Homo sapiens: one gene and its partners. The protein of the gene in region 2 purifies or fractionates together with the protein of the main gene of each other region. This does not show direct contact. Each region holds a gene or a part of one and is shown on either strand. Other genes may lie near its edges.

Region 1 (3,500 bases), on a different chromosome or scaffold from region 2:
CCCTCCCCGCTGGCCCCTGCCCCCAATGCAGGCTCTGCCTGTCACTTGCTGGACGAGTTCCCCAGCGTTCCTCAGCGTCTCAAACATCAAAGGCTTCATTTGAAAATGGGATAAAAACATCTCCAGGGCGGGGCGGCTGCTAACAGCAGAGGCCTCCATGGGAGACGCTGGTACAGCCAATTCCAGGCGCCACGTACTTCAAGCACCCAGAGAACTGCGGCCAGTTATTTTTTCTGATTTTATATTATTTCTTAAATAGGGCGTCTCGCTTGTTGCCCAGGCTGGTCTTGAACTCCTGGGCAAAGTGATCGTCCTGCCTTGGCCTACCAAATGCTGGGATCCCAGGCGTGAGCCCCTGCGCCCAGCTGACTGAGGCCTGCTCTAACTTCATGTGACGGAGCGAGTTTCCTGGCTTGGAAATAACTGAAAAGATTCATTTTCTCTTTGTGTACAAAGGATTCAAAATATTTTCACATCTTCCTTCTGCCAGTTAAACGTGCCGTGGCTCCAATACACACCAAAGCCAAGCGTACTTGGCTGCCTCAGGAAGGCTGGGAGGAAGTGCCAGATGGTATCAGCGACAGCGGTGGGGACCGGGCGGGGACGGGCCAGCTCTGTCCTCCCAACACGGCACCAGGCACTCGGCCTCATGGGGGAGGCCCGGCCAGCGGGAGGCAGCCACAAGTCCAGGCCACGTGGGAGGTGAGCGTGGGGGGAGCAGTGCCTGCCCCACCTCCACCACTGCTCAGAAGCCGCAGCAGTCATGACCAAGAGGACCGGGTGCCCTGGTGCCCACACCCTGGGCCTCGAACCTGCGGCGTGCACGTGGGTGCCAGGAAAGGGACAGCGGGGGACAGACTGTGGCCCTGGGCAGCGATGCCCCACAAAGGAGTCCCATCCAGGCTGGAGGACGTGGCTCCTGGCCACAGGGGCTCCGGCCTCTCCTCCCGGATTCCAGTCAGGGTTCCCATGACACCCGGACAAACCCCAGGTGAAACGCCCTCGCAGCCCTGTCAGAGCAGCCCGGGGCCAGGGCTCTTCATCACGCGGTGCTGAAGCAGCTCCAGGCTGGGGCGGCCTCCAGGGAGGGCAGGGAGTCAGGGCCCCAGGAGCCCTGGTGCACCCGAGGACTCCGCTGCCCGCCGGGGCCCGGGGGAAGCAGCACTTACTGGTCCTCGTTGCGGAAGACGCCCCACACCACGCTGACGGCCACGCAGAAGAGCGCCAGGAGCAGCATACGGGCCTGCGGGCGCTTGTGGAAGTAGGGCAGGCTGTTGTTGGGGATCCTGGGGGGCACGGGGCAGTCAGAGCCAAGCCCACCAGCTCCCGGCCTCATCCCACTGCCCACCACCCTTGGGACCGGCCCAGGCACCCCCTGCAGAGTGGCAGCCCCCACTCTGTTGTCCTCATTAAACTCCACATCCCACACGATGACAACAGTAGGCACCCCAAGGGCAGGGCAGAGCCCGACCCGGGCAGGCGCTGGGGGCCACGGGCTGTACCCACAGAGCCCCTCGCCTGCGCTGCGCCCCTTCGCCCGAGGCCCTGCCTGCTCCAGACCTCCCACCTCCTCACCCAGGGACGGCAACACAAAAAGGTCTCCCCCTGGGCTAGCCCCGCTTCCTAGACCCAGGTCTGACTTTGTTGGAGACCCCCCAGCAGCTCCCTTTACCCCTAAGAGCCAGGCCAAGCTCTGGGCTGTGGGGAACCTTCTGGGTTCCCCGGAGAACCCTGGGGAACCCAGGGTTCGGCCTGCGACCTGGGGCAGGGTTCCTGGGGACAAGGGCACCCTCCCCCCGCCACCCCTGGCGCCTGGCTGCTGGTGGGCTCCATTGATAGCTCGCCCAGACTCCGCCCTGCTCCTGGGCCTAGGAGCCCCAGGCCAGCACTGAGGGAGCGCCTGCTGTAGACTCTGAGCAATATTGCACCATGGGGGGCTATGGGGCGGCAAAGGGGCCGTGGCCATCACCGCACAGAGTCAGGCACGTCGGGGCCAGCAGGGCAGACTCACCTGCACTTGCCGAAGGGCAGCCGCCGCACACAGGGCGCCAGGCAGCTGTAGAGGCCGGTGGCGGAGGCCAGGCAGAAGATCCCGATGACCACGTACACTGCAGGGGCAGGGCCGTGAGGCCGGGGGCCAGGCCCGCACGCCACCCTCCCTCCGCACGGGGCGGGCTGCATCTCCACGCCGCGGCCCACCCGCCCGGGGCCGCGCACCGAGGAGATCGTAGAAATAGTAGAGCAGCACCAGCATGGAGCAGCACATCACCACAAACACGCAGGTCATCACCGGCGTCACGTCCACCGCCTCGTCCTCCTGCTTCTCGGGCCCATCGTCGCGCTTGTGCTTCATGTACCTTCTTGGGAGACACCATGGGGTCGTGGGGCCCTGGGGCCGGCTGGCCGACACGGGGCTCGGGAGCCCACAGCCACCCGGGGGAACGGGGCAGAAAACCCGGGAGCAGGAGGGGACCCGGGGGGGACTGAAGTGCAAGGAACCGCCCCGAACGTCCCCAGGGCAGAGGAGACCACACAGCAGAGGGTGGCAGGGCCCGCGTCCCTGGGTTGAGCTGGGGTGGCCACTAGGCCGGGCCAGAGGCTGGCGTGTGGGCAGCAACCGCAGCTTGGATCTGCATAAAGAGCCCTGGACATGGGGCCTCCCCAGACCCAGGCGGCTCAGCAGGAAGAGGGTAGCTGGCCCCAGCCACCTGCCCAGCCCTGCACCTGCCACGCCCGTACCTGCCACATCCACACCTGCCCAGCCCTACACACCCACCAGGTGCCCGGAGCCCACCCTGGCAGGAAAAGAGACTGATTCTGTCCCAGGACCTCCTGAGGAAGAAACGAAGGGCTCCACGGGGCGAGCCGTGCCTGCCGAGGCCAAAGCACTCACTGCTGTTCTGGAAGACTGGCCGTCCCGGCCCGTGTCAGAGCCGCCCGACCCCGTCACAGCACACGCACGATGCGAAACTCACTTCTTCACGTCCCGACTCCCGGCCCAGTAGCCGCCGATGGCGACGGTGCCCACAGCCATGATGAAGATGATGACCATGTTGTAGTCCAGCACCGGCTCCTTAGGCGCATACAGCGCCGCCCTCACCGTGCGGCCGAAACGCTGCCTCAAGGAACACACCGGAGGCAGGCGTCAGAGCCACCCGCCAGCCATGGGTCGACGTGCAGCTGTGGGCTGTGGGGCTGGGGCTGGAGACCCTGGCCTGCAGGGGCCACGCCTCACCCACCACCCTGATCCCACCAACTGAGGCACAAACCCCCCCGGCAGCCAGCCCGAAGCCCCCTGCCCCATCTCCTCGGGAGCGTGGGTCTGAGCCGGCGCAGACCTACCGTGAAGATGTCCAGCATGTCTTTGTAGCTGAGCAGGGCCACGGGAATGCCAATCTCATCATACTGCGTCTTATTACCCCCCGGGGGGACCTGGGGGCCCAGAGGAGGGAGCGGCAGGCATCACCCGCAGCAGTGGGTGGGCCCCCAGCTCTGTGCCC
Region 2 (3,500 bases):
CACAGTGAAGGCGAGAGCCTCCGGGTGGTCTCTGATGGACACGCGGCCATTCCTCTCCACCTTCTCTTCTCCCTTGGTCTCCACAATGCTCTCACATGACGTGTCGTACTGTCCTCGGCACCAGTACTTGTTATATCCCTTGTACATGCTCTCATACTGACACCACACTGTCAGAGAGTCCCCCGCAGTGCCAGTCACAGAGCCGGGGCCCTTCAGAGACAAACAGCCTGGAAAACACAAGCCCGAGTCCCAAGTCTCCATCCAGATGGCCCCATCAGCAGCCGTCTGTCTGAAGCTTAAGGGGAAGATTGCCAGGGAGACCTGGGTGTTTCCTGGGAGGGGAACCTGGAGGAATACTTGAGCTTAGGACCTAAGCCAAAGAGTCCCTGTGAGAGCAGAAACCTGTCCCCTGTGAGAGCAGGGACACCAAGTCACAGCACAGGGGCCCCAGCACCTGGAGACCAAAGCTGGAGGCAGGAGCAGAGAGGAGCTGGTCATCCCACCTCGTCCTGGGCCCTGCAGCCTCTGCCAGGCATGAGATTTGGTCATATACAAGATCACTTCCCTTTGGAGTGAGACCCATATATTCTGGGGTCTTCTGAATCTCAGGCTTATTCTTTAAAAGCACAACTTGCGGTTTCCTCCACTTTCAGAGTGTTCTTGTGGGAGGAAAAATACTCTCCGGCTCTGATCTTAACCACTCTCCAGAAAGAATCAACATGGCACTGGGAAGAGGGGTTGTCCCCAAAGGAAGCCCTGATAAGCTTCTTTACCTGAATTTGGGACACAAGATGACCCCCCCGACAATAGTCCCCAGGTCTTGGGAGTCAGAGGTCACCATGCATTCAGAGGAAAGAGGGAAGCTGCTCTCTGTAACCAAGTGAGGTGATTTGGGTCCTGGGAGGAAAGTGGGGTTTAGAATCTGGGAGGCAAAGTGTGAGAAGTTGATACGGAAGCAAAGAGAAGGGACAAGAAAGGCTGTAGGTAGGCAGAAGTTCAGGCATTATGGGATGTGATGCTCAGCAGAGCCCCCCAATATCTTAAGCAAGTGCTGAAAAACTGACAAGAGGCTTTGTTTGAACTTGAGTGTATGTGCATGTGCACGTGTGTGTGGGTGTGAGAGAGAGGGAGAGAAAGAGAAACAGTGATGAGGCTGAGCTTTGCACCCCCTCAGAGTAACCTGAGTTCACAATAAGAGGATGAATACGCGCAGGGGCCACGGAAGCTTAAGCCGTTAGAATGAGCAGAAATTGTGAAAGAGCCCCTGGCATCTGTGGGTCCTATGACTATCTGGGCTCCTGAGCTAACTACATCTAGATCTGAGGTGATTGAGGATGGAGGAGCCCCTGACTTCTGGCTTTCATTCATTTCCCTCCCCTCCTCCCACCATCTGCCTTTCCTCCCCACTCTGTCTGCAGCTGGCTCTGTCTGTCATATGCCTTGGCAGATGTGTGAGCTGCCACCACGCACACCTTCCTCACCCCACCAACCATGCTTGGCCTGAGACAATCTCACTGTCACTATCTCTTCCCACCCTCCTGGTCCCTTCCACACTCAGTAGCACCTGTCACCCCCACCCTGACCCCTTCCCAGCCCCTACCCCAAACCCTGCTCCAAACCTGTGTTTTCCCGCTCTGTGCTCCCTTGACCACAGCAAAGTGGCTCCTGACCCCGCACCTTCTGAGCACTCCCCATTTCTCTGCTGTCCTAATTCTCGTAAGAACCTTCCTCGCTCTGGATGCTGTGCCCTCAGGAATCTTCCCATTCCCAAATCCCTGCTCCCCACCTACGTTCTCCCCCAAGAACCTGTTGCCCCGCAGCTGCACACCCCTCCTGAGATTTGAGAGCTGGTCCTCACCTCCTCCCTTCCACCTGCCCCCAGCTTCCTCCTGGAGGTGGCACATCCCAGCAGCACCTCCTTCTAGGTTCTGGACAGAGCTCAGGACTGCATTTCCCACAGTGGGAGCTTGGCAGGGTACAAAGGGCTTGTCACAGCCAAGAGTCTGGTGATGGAGCCGGGGCCTGCTTGTGCTGCTTCCTAAAGGGATCCTTGCTGGAGAGCTTGGGGTTGTTCTTCTTCTGCTAGGATCAGAGCCAGTCCCTTCAGAGCTGAATGTGTCCTAGAATTCCTGCCACTCCAATCAAGAAGATGCCAGCAGCAGATAGGAAGTCAGACTCAAGAGAGCTTTCCAGGCTCCTTCCAGCCCAAAAAGTCTTTAATTCCTCAATTGCGTAAGAGCTGGCCTGGCCTTCTGCCCCTGGCCTCTGGAAAGAGGCTTTCTCCTCTGGAATCTGTCCTCCACTCTCCTGATTACAACCTGGGCTCCTTCAGCCCTGCTAGGAAGCAAATGTTTCACTCCTCCTCTCAATCACACACACACACACATACACACACACACACACTGGGGAGAGCACAGCTGAGGGAGGAAACCATGGGACCATTTTGTCCCTTCCAGAGCCCAGAGCCACTTACTTTTAGCTCCCTCTGGACTGAGCTGTTTCCTTCCCCAGGTCTCTATTGGGTAAATCTCCAGGTTTGGGGGGTCTTTCTGGTTCACAAACTTTACAACTTTTCAAGCCATTCTAAGCCAAGCAAACATCAGTCCCTTTGAAGAGGCAGAATCTCATCCTGAAAAGCCTAAAAGTGCTATTGGGAACCCCAAACCTAGCAAATCTGGAAGGTCACCCTAGAAAAGAAAGGGCCTTCTGCATTCATGATGGCTATTCTCTCCAGTAGGCAACCTTCTCATTGAAATGAAACCAATTCAAATTAATCTTCTGAAAAGACAGAAGATGGTTCTTAAAATGTGGAAATCACAGCTGGGCGCAGTGGCCCACGCCTGTAATCCCAGCACTTTGGGAGGCCGAGGCAGGCGGATCACAAGGTCAAGAGATCGAGACCTTCCTGGCCAACATGGTGAAATCCTGTCTCTACTAAAAATACAAAAATTGGCCGGGTGTGGTGCCTCAAGCCTGTAATCCCAGCACTTTGGGAGGCCGAGGCGGGCGGATCACCAGAGGTCAGGAGTTCGAAACCAGCCTGGCTAGCATGGTGAAACCCCGTCTATATTAAAAATACAAAAATTAGCCAGGCATAGTGGCGGGGGCCTATAATCCCAGCTGCTTGGGAGGCTGAAGGTGAGAATCACTTGGACCTGGGAGGCGGAGGTTGCAGTGAACCTAGATCACGCCATGCACTCTAGGCTGGGCAACAGAGAGAGACTCCATTTAAAAATAATAATCATAATACAAAAATTAGCCGAGCATGGTGGTGTGCACCTGTAGTCCCAGCTACTCAGGAGGCTGAGGCAGGAGAATCACTTGAACCTGGGAGGCAGAGGTTTCAGTGAGCCAAGATCGTGCCATTGCACTCCAGCCTGGCAACAAAGCGAGACTCCGGCCAAAAAAAAAAAAGGAAGTCACTTGTAAAGACTTATATTTCAGAGGTAGGGCAGCAGTGTGGATAAGAGTACTATCTAAAGCCCAGTAAGCAAAGCCAC
Region 3 (3,500 bases), on a different chromosome or scaffold from region 2:
TTCAAGGACGTTTTTATATGTACTAATAAGAATTTACTTACTTTAATTGATAGAATTGAAAAAGGGAGAACAAAATGATAATGTAAGACTGAAGACTCAAAGGAGTTATTATTTAAATGTAATTTTAATAGAGTTTAAAAGTTTGGTAATCTAGTTAAAAGACCCAATCACCAGTGGTTATTTTTGTGCTATAAATTGCATGTCTTTGAAAATGTCAAAAAAGCTTCTTGTTACTGATTTTTAGGATAGTTGAAGTTGGAAGGAAGAAACATAGTGGTATTTCTGCAGGGATGAAAGATAAGTTCATTTCTACCTAAATATAAATACAATTGTCTGATTAATCATAAGACCACTGAAAACCTTATTCTAGGAATTAATATTTTTTATCTTAAGAATTTCATGTCATTACCAATTGTGATAGGAATTCTAGGCAGTATTTCTCAAACTTTAGGCCAGAGTTATTTCAGAAAATCCAAAAATCTCCATGTGCACTAAGCATTATTTGTGGGTGCTGTTGTGATTTAGTAAAATATGAAATCATTGGACCAGCTTCATGGTAACTTTTTGTTACACAGTTTTATAACCAATAGCTATTTGAACAGATCATCGAACGTTTTAGACCATACTCACCAATAGAAATGTAATATGAGCTACATATAAATTTAAATGTTCTTGATACCACATTATAAAAAGGAAGAAATACGTAAGATTGATTTTAATAATATATTTTATTTAACCCAGTATATTCAAAATATTCAACATGTAATCGGTATAAAATTATTAAAGTGATATTTTATATTTTTTACACTAAATTTTTGAAAATTGGCATGTTTTACATGTACGACACATCTTACTTCTGATGCTAAATAATTACACTGAAATTAAATAGTAGTAAAAATTAGGTTCCTCAAGTTGCCCTGGCTACATTTACGTGCTTCATAACCTTATGTGGTTAGGGGCTGCCATTTTCTACAGCTTAGTTTTAGAACTTAAAGAGGAGTTCCCATATACAGTAGATTGGGAGCCACTGTTCTAGATCAAGTCATCATTTTTACTTATTGGTTTGCTCAAGTTTTCACTTATTAGTAGCAAAACATAGAAGATTTCCAACACATTACTTTAAATATTAAATTATTTAATTGCAATAGAAAATGAAACTGGCATAAACAAATTTGAGAACAAACATAGTTGACTCTTAATAAGCATAAAAAGCATAAGGCTCAGTTTGTGGGAGCAAAAGTGTGAGGGTGTGCAAGAATGAAGCCTCTTGATCTGGACCATTTGGTCTTCCATGGGCGTTAGATATAGGAATACATGGCTTTGGTTAATACTATGAGGCAATTCAGTGGAGGTCAGTTAAGAGAGATGATATCATACTTAGTATATTATAATTAGCTGATTTTTTTCCTACCTTATGCTGGACTAATTTTCTAGAGCAGTTTATATGATACTTACTTCTGTATCCCTACAGACACTGAGGGATACTGTATCTCTAAGCACTTAGCATAGAACCTGACAAATAGATGTTTAGTGAAGATTGAATAAATATCTTGCAGTATTTGCTTGTTGTTGTTATTTAAAATAGTGTAATAGGAATGAGTAATTGTGGGTATTTATATATAATACTAATATTTTAATTGTGTAATAGTTTATGCCTATGTGAGGTTTTAAAAAGTGTATTTTGTTGTGGTAAATAACCTAAGAATTGTTGTTCATAAGGGGTTGCAATTACTTGTCCTAAGACTTGACCCTGCAATAGATTGAGTGAGCACCAGATTATGGGCCAGTTTTAACTAATGAGTCTCAAATTGAGGAGCACTGCGGTATCATTAAGCCTGTAGCTTTTAACTGGTTTCCAGACTTCAGAATGCTGTTTGATAGTATTTTATTAGAATGCTCTGGCATTCATGGTGTACTTTGCTGTTTTAAGACTTCTGACTGGTGTTCCTAACACATTACCCTGTTTAGGCAAGCAGTTTGGGCATAGATTTATTGTCGTTGCTTTTGTAGCATAATATGGCTTCATTTGCGGTTTTAAGGATAGTTGCTACCTTCCATCTATTATGGCAATGTTTCTTGTGCTGCTAATAAGAGAGATTCTGGTGTCATCTACCTTGCTTGCTACCTTTCCGGTGACGTCAAAAGGAGGCATGTGATAGATACGTGCCTTCCTTAACTCTCACTCTTTTTAATGTGATTGGTACAGGATAAAAATGAATTTTAATAACCTTTTTAAAAATTTATCAAGGTTTCATGCTTTAACATGTTGCTACATACTTTCTGATATTGTCCACATTTCTGGTATTTATTCTCTCTCCTGATTTTTTTCTTTCACCACTTGTAAACCCATAAGTTTTTCTGTACTATGGATATTTCATTGACTATGTTATTCCTATAAGGTATATTGAAGATATCACTTGGCTTGTAAAATCATTCCATTGATGGCATGTAAATGATATTCAGGGTTTACCTGCCTGTTAGTTGGCCAGTTTTGTCCTAGAATGTATCTAATCTCTTGTTACATGGAAGTGATGCTTACTATTATGTGGCTTTACCCAAGCCAGTATTTATAGAAATGAGTGAAAATGAAATGTATAAAAGCAGGTTAAGCTTTATTAACTTTGGTACACTATGCCAAGCATATTTCCAGAGAGGCTGTAACAATTGACAGCCTCACCAGCAGTATTCAAGATTCCCATTTGTCTCACATCCTCCTGAACACTTTCCATTGTCTTTTTAATTTTAGCCAAACCAGTAGATGTGTAATGGTATCCTATTGTGATTTTTATTAATATTTCTTTAATACTAATGATGTTGCACACTGTTTTATGTGCTTATTGAGCATTTAAATATCCTCAAAAGAAATGCCCACTCAGATTATTTGCCCATTCTTTTATTTGGTCATCTTTTTCTATTGATTTGTTGGAGTTCTGTAGTTTTTTGGATACAGTTTATTATTGTTGTTGGATATATGAATACAAATACCTTCTCTTTGTGGTTTGCATTTTCACATTCTTAATGACATCTTGTGGACATAAGTTCTAACATGTTTCTTTAAAATTTACAGTGAAATACAGAAATTGTATGTGCATAGTTAATTTTGATAAATTATAGTACAGAGAATTTTGGTAAAATTATGCACCTATTTACCTCAATTAAGTTGGAGAATATTCTCATCACCCCAGAAAGTTTCCTTGTGCTTCTTTCAAGTCAACTCCCATCTCATGTATTATTGTTTGCATATCTATTACTGTAGCATAGTTTGGCTTGTTCTTGAATTTCAGTTAAATTGAGTCACTTAATGAGTGACTTAATGGAATCTTGTGTCTGGCTTCTTTTATTCAAATTGGTATTTTTGGGATTCATCTATATGTGTGTATCAATAGTTCAATTTTTAAAATTCTAAGTAGGTATTATATAAATATAACACAGTTTGTTTATTTATCTACTGTTGTTGCACGTTTGGATCATTTCCAGTTTTGAGATCTAATGAATAATGC
Region 4 (3,500 bases), on a different chromosome or scaffold from region 2:
TGATTTAAAATCAATCGACATGGACTGTGACTCTGGGAAACGACCGCAGAAAAGAAACTACAGCTAACTTTTAAAAACTACAACTCATTAAAAATATGTATCATTTTTAAAAGTAAAGGCAATCCTTATAGCACAGACTTAGTCTTCCTTACCAGCGTTATGGATAACACAATACTTTCATTGGATTTTAAACCTTTCAACCACCTGCTTCAGATAAGACATGTCTTCCTTCCTCCATCCCTCCCTCTCTCCTCCCCACTTTTCCTTTCCTTTTTTTTCTTTCCTTCTTTTTCTTCTCCTTGTGCAAGGCCCAAGGTATGGCAATCAAATGCCAAACAACTAGGACAAACATCCTGAGTGGTCTAAAGTACTCATTAAAAAACATTTATTTAAAAAATGACTACAAATAATCTATCTTATTATCAGATTGATTACCTCTTATTGGTATGCAGAAATATAATTGGGGCAACAAAGACTTTCTAAAAATTGCAAACTGCCTACGAAGTGTGGCTCCCTAGTTATGGCCTCGTTCCCTTGAATATATAATGGGCACTGTGCCCTCTGTGCCTTCCCATTATCCTCGCTTCCCCCCTTTTTTTTTAGCGATTTAATACTCCCCGTCGTGGAGAAACAATAGTGCCAGGTCCATAAGCTTCTCGTGCTGAGCTGGGCACAGTCTAGAAATTTAAACCTGATTTGAAATAGCCTGTCTTCTGCGATTGAATTAGGGGCCAAGTTAATTCAGTCCTGTATCTTGGAGACACTCTCCAGCTCCCAGAGAAGTTCTGGGGCAAACATTTACCCCAGAGGAGGCAGAGGAAACTCAGATTCTGCTGGGTGATGGTGGAGGGGCCAGTGTCGATGCAGTGCTTTCTCTTTTTTATCGAATTAGTTCCCATTTCAGAGCAACATCTGGCCACCTGGCAGCCAGTGCCATACATTGCAGGCCAACAACATCAGGGTCTATTAGATAAATTTCATGGAGTTTTTCTCCAACTTTTCCATTTGGGTCACATCCTAACCAGCCGTTGGAAAGAGGCAGGAACAAGCACAATTGCATGGATGTGGCAGAGGACTCCTTTCTTCCTCAGTCGCTATGAAACGCAGGGAGAATTCGTTTATTAATAGTTCAGATAATTGAAGAGTATTTCCCTATACGAGATCACACTTATTTAAAAAATTGGGGGGGGTCATATTTATTTTAGCTCTTTGTGTAAAAAACACAAGAACAAACTCAGAGCTTTATTTAATTTGAATATAACACTAGAATAGCTTCTTAGGTCATTCAGTTTTATTTTGGACTAAATCATCATCCATTAAGATATTTTTCACGTTTAAGCCTGCTTTATGAAACCTTTCTTTCGGTAACCGCTACCTAGATATATTTCAAAAACAGTTATAACAGGAATATCAGGATGCTCGTCTCTTTTCCTAATTATTCGGGTGCCTTTCTGATATTAATATTCTTAGAACTTTCAACAACAGAAGAACAGGTAAGAGTGAAGGAGTGCACTGTGTTTTTCCCATGGTTGTCAGTTTGTGTGTGTGCAACTCCATGTGTATGTTTGTGTGTAGACTCCTATTGTGGTTTTTCGAAAAATAGATCTCTGTTGTAAAAACACAATTTTCTGTTGCTCCCCTGGCTCATGGGGACCTGAGTGACCAGGCACACCAATCAACAGATACCCGCCTGTGCCCCAGACCGGACTGCAAGGGACCCGCTGATCCTAGTGCCAGCCTATGCCCGTAGGTGTCGCCAGGTACACGGACACTTACTGGGAGGTGGGAGAGAGAGGAGGGGCTTGGAGTGGCAGAAGAGCAAAAAACTAGTTATGAGTAAAAAACAAAACAAAAACCAAAGACAATATCACCAACATTTTTTTTCAGAAATGAATTAAATTTTGGATATTCTAGGAGATTTTTCTTCTGTCCATCAACCAAAATTCTTATGGCGGTTCACTCAAAAACACTTTTTGAGCAGCCTCATCCCTCCCTACAGGTCAGCCAAGACTACAACAAAATGATTAAGAGGATGGAGAGAAAAAAAAAAAAGCAACTAATATAAAGAGGAAATAAAATGAGTGATTTGTTGACTTGCAGGGCCAAGGAAAACCATGACAATGTGTCTGGCAAGTTCTTCCCCTGTGTGACTTGCTCATATTTCAAATAGTGGAGTAAGTATGGGAGATATCTGATGAGATTAGGGGTGTTTTCGGGTCAAATTTCTATTTTTCTGGAATGCTTGCTAATTTAGACACTGCTTTCTAAGACAGGAATCATACCAGTGAAGCCCATGGCGGCTCCTTCTCGTGACTGTCTAAGCAGCCCAGCTCCATCTCGAAAGTCAATGTACACCAGATCTATGGCTTGGAGACCAAAGGCTTTCGCTATGACAACAATCTTTTGCCGGGCGTAGAGAATATCCAGGGTTTCTTTACTACTTGTTGCACCTGAAAATGGGATGTTAACAGAAAAAGGAGGCTTTAACTTTGGAAACCGCACCCAGATATTTATTATAAAACCTCAGTTTGTACAGATATCTAAACCTCCCTGGAAATTGCTCCTCCGCAAAATAAAATTATTGAAATACAAATGAAGACAGGGACGCGTGGAGGCCAAGTTAAACCTCGAATGTGTCTGTTTAACTGACAAGGCATCTTTCAATAGAATTACTTCTACCTGCATTAAGAGAAGGCCCCTTCCCCATTCTGGGAGGCTGGGTCAGGGTCGCAAGGGACTCCTGATATATTTTTTTCCTTCTTATCATCGCTTGAAAAGTGCCAGTCCAAAGACAGCACCACAAAGGGTGGCCCAGCAGCTATGCAGGGCAATGGTTCGTGTTTCACAGCAAGCACAGAACTGTGTGTGCTGCGATTGCCCTGTCCAAACTGAAGTTCTGAGCCAAATGCTTCAGCTTCAGGGTCTGTCTGGATGGAGAACTTGGGGAGACGGGAGGGCACTTGTTTTGAGAGGGCTGGAAAGCATCGATATGCCTTCTGTAGCCCGCTGAACCGTTGGATACACAAGTCTCCTGGAAAGACTCGTATTCAAATAAATTCAGTTTTTTCACCCTGAGGGGAGGGAAGTGTCCCTGTTTACATTTGGAACATGCCACTCCCTGCCTAGGGAAAGTGCCTGTCTTCAGGTCACTGGGGCTGGTTTCTGTGGCCTCGGCCTCTTTTCTAAATGCTTCACGGTCTCCAGTCAAACATGCAGACCCCTCAAGTGCAGCTCACAAGGGATGGTGAGAATCGGTGAAAATCAGCACATTTAATACTAAGAGTTCGAAACATATTGTAAGAGAAATTTAAGATCCATTTAAAATAATATTTACCTACCGCATATTCTGTAGAAAACAATTCATTAAGGCAAATGTGAAATTGCCTTAAATTTGCGTTAGAAATCTAGACAGCCCACAGACTGATATGAAAACAAAATACTGAAGCAACGGTGAGGCTGTTCACATAATATATTTATTAGGAGCAAAGGAGATGCCATAT

What was found.
Region 1: the proteins of CD300E (region 2) and SPPL2B purify together in Homo sapiens (affinity purification with mass spectrometry; 2 studies listed by BioGRID and IntAct, with this or other methods). This does not show direct contact.
Region 3: the proteins of CD300E (region 2) and LYPLAL1 purify together in Homo sapiens (affinity purification with mass spectrometry; one large-scale study listed by BioGRID and IntAct). This does not show direct contact.
Region 4: the proteins of CD300E (region 2) and CLYBL purify together in Homo sapiens (affinity purification with mass spectrometry; one large-scale study listed by BioGRID and IntAct). This does not show direct contact.

What each region holds. Positions count from the first base shown.
Region 1 is NC_000019.10:2,338,684-2,342,183, reverse strand, and holds part of SPPL2B (signal peptide peptidase-like 2B isoform 2 precursor), read right to left. Parts: exon of another isoform or gene 3,433-3,500; coding exon 3,343-3,432; intron 3,120-3,342; coding exon of another isoform or gene 3,116-3,119; coding exon 2,976-3,115; exon of another isoform or gene 2,894-2,975; intron 2,361-2,893; coding exon 2,218-2,360; intron 2,109-2,217; coding exon 2,012-2,108; intron 1,287-2,011; coding exon 1,170-1,286; intron 1-1,169. UniProt on the Homo sapiens protein: Intramembrane-cleaving aspartic protease (I-CLiP) that cleaves type II membrane signal peptides in the hydrophobic plane of the membrane. Functions in ITM2B and TNF processing.
Region 2 is NC_000017.11:74,617,239-74,620,738, forward strand, and holds part of CD300E (CMRF35-like molecule 2 precursor), read right to left. Parts: intron 228-3,500; coding exon 1-227. UniProt on the Homo sapiens protein: Probably acts as an activating receptor.
Region 3 is NC_000001.11:219,180,378-219,183,877, forward strand, and holds part of LYPLAL1 (lysophospholipase-like protein 1), read left to right. Parts: intron 1-3,500.
Region 4 is NC_000013.11:99,865,190-99,868,689, reverse strand, and holds part of CLYBL (citramalyl-CoA lyase, mitochondrial isoform 1 precursor), read right to left. Parts: intron 2,451-3,500; coding exon 2,283-2,450; intron 1-2,282. UniProt on the Homo sapiens protein: Mitochondrial citramalyl-CoA lyase indirectly involved in the vitamin B12 metabolism. Converts citramalyl-CoA into acetyl-CoA and pyruvate in the C5-dicarboxylate catabolism pathway.